3 linked regions of the Homo sapiens genome follow. The protein of the gene in region 2 interacts with the protein of the main gene of each other region in a pairwise test. Each region holds a gene or a part of one and is shown on either strand. Other genes may lie near its edges.

Region 1 (3,796 bases), on a different chromosome or scaffold from region 2:
CAGATGGCACTGACTGAAGGGGAGCAGCAGGCTTGAACACTGGGGCCAGAGTCTGATTCTTAGGGCCTTTCCCAGGACTCAACAGTTTGTGACCTCAGGATACACCATTTGCCCTGCCTGGGCCACAGCTGTTTCATCTATAAAATGGGCTGATAAAATTCCATCTGAAGACCAGGACCGAACCAGCCTTGTTCTTGACACCCCTCCCAGTTCTACTACACGCACTCCCATGAGGCTTTCAAATGATACCCTCATTATCATAAAGAGAAGGTGCGCTCTTACCTTAATGCAAGCTATCCCCAAATCAGAGTCTGCTAAATAGCAAGTGAGTTGTACAGTATTCCAGGGCTCTAATATGTAACTATTTAATTACAAGTGGAAAAAAAAAAACGATTAGAAGAGCTATTTTTTAATGAGCCCCAGTGACTTTTCAGTAGCTTTTGGGAGAGGAAGATTCAAAGCTTGGATTAATCCACATTCTGAGCCAAGCGCAGTGGCTCATGCCTGTAATGCCAGGACTTTGGGAGGCAGAGGAGTTCGAGACCAGCCTGGGCAAAATGGTGAAACTCCCCGTTTCTACAAAAAATTTTAAAAAATTAACCAGGCATGGTGGCGCACATCTGTGGTCCCAGCTACTCAGGAGGCTGACAGAACAAGACCCTGTCTCAAAAAAAAAAAAGAAGAAAGAAAGAAAGAAAAGAAAAGAAATAAAAGAAAAAAAAAAGAGGAGTGTTCTGGCTGGGCAGAGTATACACACTTTATGACTGTCCACCATGTTTCCAAAGAAGCCAGTGTGATAAAAGATTACACATTGGTCAAATTTATAACAATGGCAACCTCTTTCCTGAGTTCAACAAAAATTTAGTGCAAAGCTAAACAAGGCTTCTCCAAATCCCTCCACAAAGTTTTGTAATCATAAAAGCGACAGAAAATATAGAATGGAAGACGCTGGTGTCTCATTTGCTATTTGAACAACAAAGCCATCCCACTTCCCAAACTGATTACCAGTGCGGCGGGTTAGGAATCACTTAATTTCTTCCTGCTGTGGAGAGGCAGGAAAGCCGAGAAAACCAGTAAATTATCTTCAAACGCTTCTAGTCGCCAAGAATCTTTACATTTTAAAAGGAACTTCGTCCACACGAAAGGTCCGACTCAACCCTTCCCAGAGAAAATGACCACTACACACTTTTAACTAGAACACAGGGTGACTGGACTGTTGTTTATGTGTTTGCTTTTACAAGTTCATACAGGTTCAACTGGTAAGTTTCCAGATGGATTTTGTTTTGAGACAATAAAATTCAATGTTCTAAAGCAAACCACACACACACACACAACATTCCTGATGAGATACATCTGGAATTTCTTTATTATTATTAGAACTCGGGTCCTGCTCTTAGGAAGCAGGCTTTCAGGTTTCTCTAAGTTTGCGCAGGTATCCAGTGCGCAGTGGATCTGGGACTGGAAGCCGAAAGTCAGTAAACATTGATGGGCTGAAGGGAATCGAGAAGTTGCGCTGGCGACAGCTGCTACTCTGGATTTCGTAGTGATCACAGGCACGGGTCCAAGGGGTGCCGAACCAGGGACCCCAGAGAGGCAAACATAGGTGGGGACGGCTCGGGGACACGTTCCTTCGCTGGCCTCCAGGCAGCCCCGCAGGTGCAGGCCGCCACTGGCGGGCCCGGGAGCGCCAGAGGACCCGGCCAGGCCCCTGCCCGGAGGAGGGAGGGGGAGGGGAAAGGGACTCCGGGCAGGAGCCATTTAAACTCTGCGAGGCGCGGGGAACCGCCAGGATCACACGCCCACGCCGGTCCCGGCGCCCAGGCCCGGCAGGTGACCCCAGCAGACGCGCGCGCCAGACCCGGGGGCGCGAGCCTACCGCCCCTCCCGCGCCCCTACCTCGACGCGCCCCGCAGGGCGGCCAGCTCCCGGCTGTCAGCGCCCGCGCCCCGCGGCCGCCTTACCTTGGTGATGACCAGCGGCTCGCCGTGCTCGCGGCCGCCCTTCAGGGTGAAGCCCCACGGGGCGCCGCCGCTCAGCTGCACCTCCACCAGGCGCCCGCCGTCCGCCGCCCGCGTCTCGGCCTCGGCCAGGCGCTCGGGCCGCGCGCGGGGCTCGGCGCCCTCCATGGCGCGACCGCTCAGCGTCCCTGGCCCGCGCCCATGCACTCCGGGCAGTCCCGGCCGTGGGATCGCAAGGGAGGCTCCGAGCGCCGCAGAACTTGCGCCGTAACTTGGAAAGAAAGTGCCGGCCCGGCGGCGGAGGGAGCCCGGAGGGCTGGCGGGGAGGGGGCGGGGCCGGGGCCGGGGCCGGGGCCGGGGCTGGCGGGGAGGGGGCGGGGCCGACGGGGGGCGGGGCGGGCGCGTTCGGGAGCTCGTACCGCGGGGCCGGTCACGGGGAGCGCGTCCAGAGGTCCAGCCCGCGGCCCGAAGGGTGAGGGACGGGGTCAGGTGCGCGCTCAGGGGCCCACGCGGCCGCTCGTACCGGGGAGAGCTGGAGAGGGGCGCGCCCCGGTTCTCTCGCCCGGTGGAGGGGAGCGGGCCGGGAGGGGCGCTCAGGCGCGCGCGCCGTTCAGCGGGTTCGGGGTCGGGGTCGAGGAGCGCGCGCCCCGGGGCTGGCGGAGCCAGCGCGGGCGAGGACGGGGGCGGAGGCCCCGGCGCCAGGTCGGGCCTTTCCTCCCGCGCCAGAGCTCTGCAGTGCTTCGAAGCTCTGGGCGCCCCCGCCCGCCGGTTGGAGGCCAGGACCGGGCAGGTGAGGCGGCAGGTGAGATGGGCGCGGGGTGGCGTGGCGGGAGTCTCCGGCCTCCTCCGTCTCGGGGCGCGCGGCCCGCCGGCGCCCACACTTTGTTCTCGCGCACCGCGGGCTGCCGCGCAGGTGAGAGCGGAAGCGCCGCGGGAGGCCCTGGTGCCCGCGCTGTGGCCGCTGCCCCGGGGCAGAGGGACCGCCCGTCCCGCGCGGCCCTGCGCGCACTCACACTCTGGACTTAGAGAGCCGGGAAGGGCGCCCCCCAGCAGCCTGAGCCGGGCGCGGGTCCGGCCTCTGGAGGGGCTTGGAAGGCGGGCGCAGAAGGACCGTGCCCCGTTTCCACGAGGGCCTTCCCACCTTCCCGCAGAGGCCTCCCACAGCCACCGCGCAGAAAGCCGTTGCGTCTAGATGCTGTCCCCACTCGCCTAGGATTGGACCACAAGGTCTTCAAGTTTCCCAGGTTTACATCCCCGAAAAGGGGAGGTGGAGGTCTGGGATTGGTGAAAGTTTGCGGACAACATGTGTGCCACCTCTTCCTGCTCGGTTTCAGTTTCCATGAAACTCTGGTCTAAAGTACCTGCATGGATAGGTATTTACATGCTTTGCAAAAAAGCTGTTTTCGTTGCTGTTTCTATACGTAGCTGAAGGCTGGTGAACACCTCTTTTCTCTAAGCAGCTCCATCCAGGCCCTTTTCAGAGGTGACGATGCTGGAGTACGCATCCAGGACAGGCCGGGAGAGCACTGGACAGAGAGTCAAGGGTCCCCGGGTCTGGGTTCTGCCACTGTCAAGCTGGGACAAGAAATCTCAGCTCTGGTCTGTTTCTTCAGAGGTCAAGTGAGAGGGGTGCATTCTGTGGAGGTGTCTCATGCAGCCGATTAAATTCAGAGTCGCAGCTCCACTGGGCACCTGTCATGGCGCTGGGCACGTGGTGACTGCCCCATAATTAACTTCTAACTACAGTCTCTGAATGCCTTTAGTTAGAAGAATGAGGCGATTTTTTCTTTTTCAAAGATTAAACGAAGGCTTAAGGAATGTGCCTCTCAGAATCAAGT
Region 2 (3,696 bases):
GGGATTACAGGCGTGAGCCACCACACCTGGCTTAAAAAAAACCTTTTATTAATACCATTTACCAGTCTCAGTCTCACTTTAAGTTAATTTATAGCAGTTATAATACAATCTTCATTTGTCTTTCAGTCATTTAACAAGTTATAATTAATGCAACTTTTTTTAAAAATATGGAGTTTTAAGAATTTTGCTCTTTGGAGCAAGACTAAATAATTGAAAGTGCTTACTTAGATTGTCAGATATGATATTTCTCGCCTATAACTGTGGAAGGGTAACTTTTCTACACTAAGTTCCCTGGTGCTATTTTTTTGCAACATAGAGCTGAGTAATATATTGCCATTATTGTGTTTATTTCAATTAGACATTCTTCTGGTTAAATAATAAACCAAAGGTCTATCATCCACAAAATTGGGTGTTTTTTGTTGTTATTTACCAGCAATCGAAATTCAGATTCTGCAGGCCCATTTGCAGTGCCTGACCATCTTCGGCAAGATGTAGAAGAATTCGAAGCTCTCTATGACCAACACAGTAACGAATATGTTGTCCGCAATAAGAAGCTATGGGACATGAACCCAAAACAAAAATGTTCAACTCTATATGAGTAAGTGGGTTGAAATTTTTACAACCATTATTTTATACTAAGGCTGCCAATTAAAGATCAGAAGTTGTTTAATTTGTGCCTGTTTTTAGAGATTTTGCCACATTTTACACAAAGTTAATTTAGGATTTTTTTTTTTTTTTTGAGACAGAGTCTTGCTGTGTCACACAGGCTGGAGTGCAGTGGTGCAATCTCTGCTCACTACAACCTCTGCCTCCCAGGTTCAGGTGATTGTCATGCGTCAGCCTCCCGAGTAGCTGGGATTACAGGCTTGCACCACCATGCCTGGCTAATTTTTGTATTTTTAGTAGAGAAGGGTTTCACCATGTTGGCCAGGCAGGTCTCCAACTCCTGGCCTCAAGTGATCTGCCTGCCTCAGCCTTCCAAAATGGTGAGATTACAGGCATGAGCCACCTCGCCCCGCCCTGAGGATTTTTAATTATTAAATTTAGAGTCCTAATGATTATTGATTTTGTCAGTTTGAGCTACTAAGTCGATACTGAGTGGGGTGGATAAAACAAGTAAAAAATTCAGGAAAATCTCAGATAGCTTACCATTTTGAGCTTTGTGTTATTAGATAGTGCATGAGGCCTTCCTTTTAAGAAAATAAATCAAGGGCTGAGGTCTGTAATAGAGTATTAATTTAAAAGCCAACTCTTCTCCTGGAAGTCCTGTCAGTAGCATATCCACCATATGGCCCTTTCTTCTGTTTTCCTGTATTGCATCATTCCTATTTAGTTCTGTGCTCTTAGATCCTTCTTCATGGTTTTTCTTTAGAGTTGAAATGCTGAGCAAATCATATTTCCAGAGAACTCTTGGGTGACAGTGTGGAAACAACTGTAAAATTATACTATTATTTCTTAAAGTATGCTAGAATTTGCTTCAGGCATCCAAAAGTAAAGCTAAAGTATGTAGTTTTCAGTATTTACTGTACGCAAATTCAAATAGGATTTGTTTTTGAGATTTGATTTTCTCTTTTTATTTAAAATTCTTATTGGCATTATTATCTTTCCTGAATAAATTTTTTGTTGTTGTTTTTAGAATAAATTATGTAATTACATAGTTGAAAGTTATGAAATAACTTTTTGATTTCCTTTTGCTTTCCCCTGCTCCCAGAAAAGTTTTAAATGATCATTTTCTAGGAGGTAGACAAAATTTTCTTTATAGTATCATTGATTGCAGTTAACCTTATGTTTGTTATATTTGTTGTTGAGGAAAGGTTGAGATCAGTGAAAAGTGAAACAGTGTTTTCCTTTGGGAGAATAAAAGTTTTTTTCAAATAGACATATTCAAGTACTTCCTTATAGTAACTCATGTAAATGTAAATTTTTTCCAAGTTACTTCTCTCAGTTTTTGGAGGAACATGGTCCCTTGGACATGAGTAACAAGATGTTCTCTGCAGAATATGAGTTTTTCCCAGAAGAAACTCGACAGATACTAGAAAAAGCAGGAGGTTTAAAACCTTTTCTCTTGGGATGCCCTCGTTTTGTTGTGATTGACAACTGTATTGCACTGAAGAAGGTTGCATCACGGCTCAAGAAAAAAAGGAAGAAGAAAAACATTAAAACAAAAGTAGAAGAAATTTCAAAAGCAGGGGAGTATGTACGAGTTAAACTACAACTGAATCCAGCTGCTAGGGAATTTAAACCAGATGTAAAGTCTAAACCAGTGTCAGATTCATCTTCAGCACCAGCTTTTGAAAATGTGAAACCCAAACCTGTGTCTGCAAATTCTCCCAAGCCAGCTTGTGAAGATGTGAAGGCCAAACCAGTATCCGACAATTCTTCTAGACAAGTTTCTGAGGATGGGCAACCCAAAGGGGTCTCTTCTAATTCTCCTAAACCAGGCTCTGAGGATGCAAATTACAAGCGAGTCTCCTGTAATTCCCCCAAACCGGTTCTTGAGGATGTGAAACCAACTTATTGGGCTCAATCCCATTTGGTCACAGGATACTGTACGTATCTTCCTTTCCAGAGATTTGATATCACCCAGACACCGCCAGCATACATAAACGTGTTACCAGGTTTGCCCCAGTACACCAGCATATATACACCCTTGGCCAGCCTTTCTCCTGAATATCAGCTACCAAGATCAGTACCAGTGGTGCCGTCTTTTGTAGCCAATGACAGAGCAGATAAAAATGCTGCTGCCTATTTTGAGGGTCATCATTTGAATGCTGAGAATGTTGCTGGTCACCAGATTGCCTCTGAAACACAGATCCTTGAGGGCTCTTTGGGAATATCTGTAAAGTCACACTGCAGCACAGGTGATGCTCATACAGTCCTGAGTGAGTCTAACAGAAATGATGAGCACTGTGGAAATTCTAACAACAAATGTGAAGTAATTCCAGAAAGCACCAGTGCAGTAACAAACATTCCACACGTGCAGATGGTTGCCATACAGGTAAGAGTTAAATAGAAAAGTCTTCTTAATACTGAAGTTAAATTTTCCTTTTCATTTTTCATTGCCGTTATATTTGCAAGAATCCTTAAAGTTGATTGACTTTATAATGATTACTGAAGCTTTTGCCTGAAAATACTTTTAAAATATGAACTCTTTTGTGAGGCATGACAGGTAATCTTCTCAGAAAGAAGCTTGGGTCCAATAAACAATACCCATCTTTGCTACTGAAATTCTACACAGATTGAGAAATAAGACAGCAGGTGGAGCCAAAACGTCATCCTAAGAATTAATAAAGGTGCTGGAGGAGAAGGTGGCTGTTTGTAGGAAAGTTCAAGTGCTAGCTGGAAGTGTAGCCTGCATCACAGTGCCTTACCTGCCAGTTACAGGAGGGCCCACCTGGAGGCCTTCCAGCGTGGGGTGCCTGCCCCATAGGACTTAGCGCATGAAGGAGGAAGGGAAAATGTGCTGGCAGCTCCTCAGAAAGAGAAGGAAAAAGGAAGACTCTGACCTACACAGGCCCAGCTTCTCCTGTCAAACCAGGGGAGGAATGAGAATGTTAAAAAGAGACAGCCAGGTAGAAACAAGAGGGATGTGTATGAGTTCTTTCCTAACAAGGAAGAGATGAAATCAAGATTCTCCTATGGTTGCCTTTATAGGGTATGAATTCATTAAATCCTTATTGAATTGCCCCACTCATT
Region 3 (3,556 bases), 1.7 Mb from region 2:
CACATACTTTGATTCCTCCAGGACACAGTTGGTCTTGGGCACGACCATAGCATCACCAACCACTACCAGTGCAATCATGCACCTGCTGGTGTAGAACCACTCAGACTTCTCAAAATGCTCTCTACTCAGGTGCTTATTCCTTAGGGTAACTATACTACACAAATCCTATCTTCCATCAACAGTAGAATGAATAAAATTCTTATAATGGAATACTATACAGCGATGAAAAAGAACACATGGCTGCTACATCCAACAACATGCATGAATCCCAGACATGATGAGTAAAAGACAAACACAAAAGAAAACATGCCTTATGATTCCATCTATGTAAAGTTCAAGAAAATCAAAACCTAATCCGTAATGATAAAAGTCAGAATCGTTCCCTTCTGTCGGGGGGACATTATTGATGGGAAGGGGTACGAAGGAATCTTCCAGGCTACTGGAAACTTCTCTATCTCCATCTGGATGGTTATTACATGGGTATACATACATACACAAATCCAACCAGCCACATGACCTGAGACTTGTGCACTGTATTTATGTTACATCTCCATAAGAAGAAATGTCACATTCCTGCATCGCCTCCATAAATATCCCAAAGTGTGGAGAAATCTGGCTGTAAGAGCAGGGACTGTTTTGTTTACTCAATGCCTGCAGTACCTGGGCCAGTGCCTGAAACATATTAGGGGTATGCTTGTTGGAAATCCACTTAGAACATGGGCTTTGACCCCCTTCTCTAATGGCTGAATCCAGGAAGTATTTATTAAGAGGTTCATTATGGCTCTGGGGTTCTCAGAATCAAAGCAACAGCCTTGTTGAAAGATGCTTCCAATCTTACCAGAATTGTTGGTGAGCAAATTCAAGTTGCTGCCTGGGAAGTCCTGACTGACAGAGCAGTAGGTGACGCTGACGGAGCTGAGCCGAGACTTGGGGAACATCTGAAACTCCTGCTCAGAGCTGAGTACGCTGGGTGTGGAGGCCGGACACATGCTGTCCAGGAGGCCGCCTTTGGGGTAATTCTGTGTCTGCATTCCATAGGGCGCCTGCTCTGTGCCAAAACCTGGAACAGAACAATCGGACGGCAGAGCTCTTAAAGTCAGTGTTACCCCAGTAACTAACCCCTACGAGCAAATGACAGGTGAGCACTCCGCACACTCCAGCCCTCTGCAGAACCTCAGTGGAGACCCGGGCTTTGGTGGGGGTCTGTCACCAGGCCTTCTTCTCAAACCATTCAGCTTCTCAACCAGCAGCCCTCTGCCAAAATGACTGCAGCCTCTGCAGGCAGGACTCAATGTTCCTATTTCTACAACCCTAGTGCTTTCATGGGACCTTCAGGAAGACAGGGCTCACTGGCTCTTTTAGCTTCCGAGGAGAGTAAGGCTCAGACAGACCAAGTGACGTGTCATGTACTGTGTGATTCATAAGGGCAGAACCAGGCCATGAACCCTGTGTGCTGAGGCACAGCCCACTCTGCTTTCTGCTCCTTCATCACACCGCTCCTGTCTCTGTTCATTGCAGAATAATTTATTTTCTGGAGAGGGAAGGAAGCTCTCTGACTCTGATTCAGGTTCAGGCAGGCACAGGGTGTCCCACTGTCATGTTCAGAAAGACCTCCTGAGCAGGAAGCCCCCAGTGGGGCAGAGAGGTGGGCTTCACCGGGTCTGAATGGTGGAGCTGGGGCCAGAGAGAAAACACTGGGCCGGACCAACACCACCCAAGCCTGCTGTTCCGAGGACCCCTCCCTCGCTGGCCTGGCCAGACCCTGTGCCCTCCCCAGTATCAGCAACCAGAAGAAAGGACCCAGATTCCATGACAGCTCTTTAAGCTCCCAAGTTCAGAGCCAGTTTACAAATTGCTTTTCACGCACTCTGTGCCTGCCGCCTCTTGTTTGCTACACTAAACCAACATTACTGGTGACTGCGGTAATCAGCTCACTTCGTTCTGCTCCTTGCTCTAAGAATTGCCTGGACTAGCACTAACAGTGCTGACCTATGGAAGATCGTGTGAGCCACTTAAGCAACTGCGAAAGTTCTAGTGGCCATATTAAAAAAGCAAAAAGAAACAGGTGAAGTTAATTTTCTTATTTTACTTGGCCTCATATAGCAATTATCATTTCAATATGTAATCAATACATTAAAAATTATCAGGGAGACATTTTATATTCTCTGTTTCATACTAAGACTTCCAAATCTGGTGTGCATGACTATACTCTTCCTACACATCTCGATGTGGACCAGTCACATTTCAATGGCTTATAGCTCAACACCCACGTGTGGCCACCATAAGAGACACACAGGTCTAGGTGGCCCCTTAGGAGCCTACAGTAGAGAGATTCCAAGTCTACTGGGAAGACTGAAGACAAAGTTCTTAAGGGCAGAATCAATCGGACTGACCTAATGTATTGCTGTTAATCCAATGAGGAACGGAGGTGAGGTGTGAATTTTCTTCATATTGATCTTCTGTCTTTTCTTGGTTTTCTGAAAAGCAGACACAGGAGACGTAAGATGGCAGATGTAGGTGAAAACTACACAGAACAAATTGACTTTCTGAATTCCTGTGAGATGATAATTTTAGAATGATGAGATGCACGGAGTGCTTCACATTTAATCTCATGGTGCTCCACGTCCCTGCCTGTCTTTTTCAAAAAACGAGAGAAAGCAACCCATTTTTCCAATTACTAAAATAAATTTTCCAAAATGAATGATGTCATTGGCAACACTAAATTTTCTATCGCAAAAGGTCCAGATGGTGTATTGAATTCATTCATGCATTCAAGAAACAGTTAAGTATTTATGAAATGCCATCTGTACCAGAGGCTGCATACAGGAAATTAATAAAATGGATGGTGTCTGCCCCCGTGAAGCTTACAGTTCCACTGCTTCCAAACCTGCACGCTTCCCCAGGGTGTGGGAAGTCTCCAGGGCTGTGGGAGTCTGGGATGGGGAACACATGTGCCCAAGAACTTTGAAAGGGAAAAGGTTTGTGCACTGTGTATGCATACTTACTACGAATATATTACAAAGTGCACGTCCACCCGGAAACCCAAATACACACAAACTCACAGGCCCGAGGAATGGTAAAACAGGCCCAATTTGCCAATAAACAGATCACCAGAAACTTGGTAGAAAAGCCCTGTCCAAGTTCAGAAGAAATGAGGGTCTTTAAAAATGAGTTTCCCTGGCCCTCAGACGCCGTAACTAAAAAAAGTTAGCTGTTGAATCCTAGGTGTTTTCGAGATTCTGAGTCTACAGTTGATGCTGAAATTCAGTGTGTTTAAAATCAGTCAGGTGAGGACTAGTTCCCTGAATTCTATAAACATGCTTATTTTCTTATATTTTTTTAACCTAAATAATCCCTACTGTATTTTATTTCTTTCCCTCCCTCCCTCCCTCCCTCCCTCCCCTCCCTCCCTCCCTCCCTCCCTCCCCTCCCTCCCTCCCTCTTTCTTTCCTTCCTTCCTTCCCTCCCTCCCTCCTTCCTTCCTTCCTTCCTTCCTTCCTTCCTTCCTTCCTTCCTTCCTTCCTTCCTTCCTTCCTTCCTTCCTTCCTTTCAACAG

Evidence for each region.
Region 1: the proteins of TTC3 (region 2) and SHROOM2 interact in a two-hybrid assay, tested with the Homo sapiens proteins (one large-scale study listed by BioGRID and IntAct).
Region 3: the proteins of TTC3 (region 2) and ETS2 interact in a two-hybrid assay, tested with the Homo sapiens proteins (one large-scale study listed by BioGRID and IntAct).

The regions. Positions count from the first base shown.
Region 1 is NC_000023.11:9,784,876-9,788,671, reverse strand, and holds the start of SHROOM2 (protein Shroom2), read right to left. Parts: upstream 2,244-3,796; 5' UTR 2,127-2,243; coding exon 1,962-2,126; intron 1-1,961. UniProt on the Homo sapiens protein: May be involved in endothelial cell morphology changes during cell spreading. In the retinal pigment epithelium, may regulate the biogenesis of melanosomes and promote their association with the apical cell surface by inducing gamma-tubulin redistribution.
Region 2 is NC_000021.9:37,163,618-37,167,313, forward strand, and holds part of TTC3 (E3 ubiquitin-protein ligase TTC3), read left to right. Parts: intron 1-433; coding exon 434-598; intron 599-1,932; coding exon 1,933-2,998; intron 2,999-3,696. UniProt on the Homo sapiens protein: E3 ubiquitin-protein ligase which catalyzes the formation of 'Lys-48'-polyubiquitin chains. Mediates the ubiquitination and subsequent degradation of phosphorylated Akt (AKT1, AKT2 and AKT3) in the nucleus.
Region 3 is NC_000021.9:38,815,929-38,819,484, reverse strand, and holds part of ETS2 (protein C-ets-2), read right to left. Parts: intron 2,478-3,556; coding exon 2,394-2,477; intron 1,061-2,393; coding exon 839-1,060; intron 1-838. UniProt on the Homo sapiens protein: Transcription factor activating transcription. Binds specifically the DNA GGAA/T core motif (Ets-binding site or EBS) in gene promoters and stimulates transcription.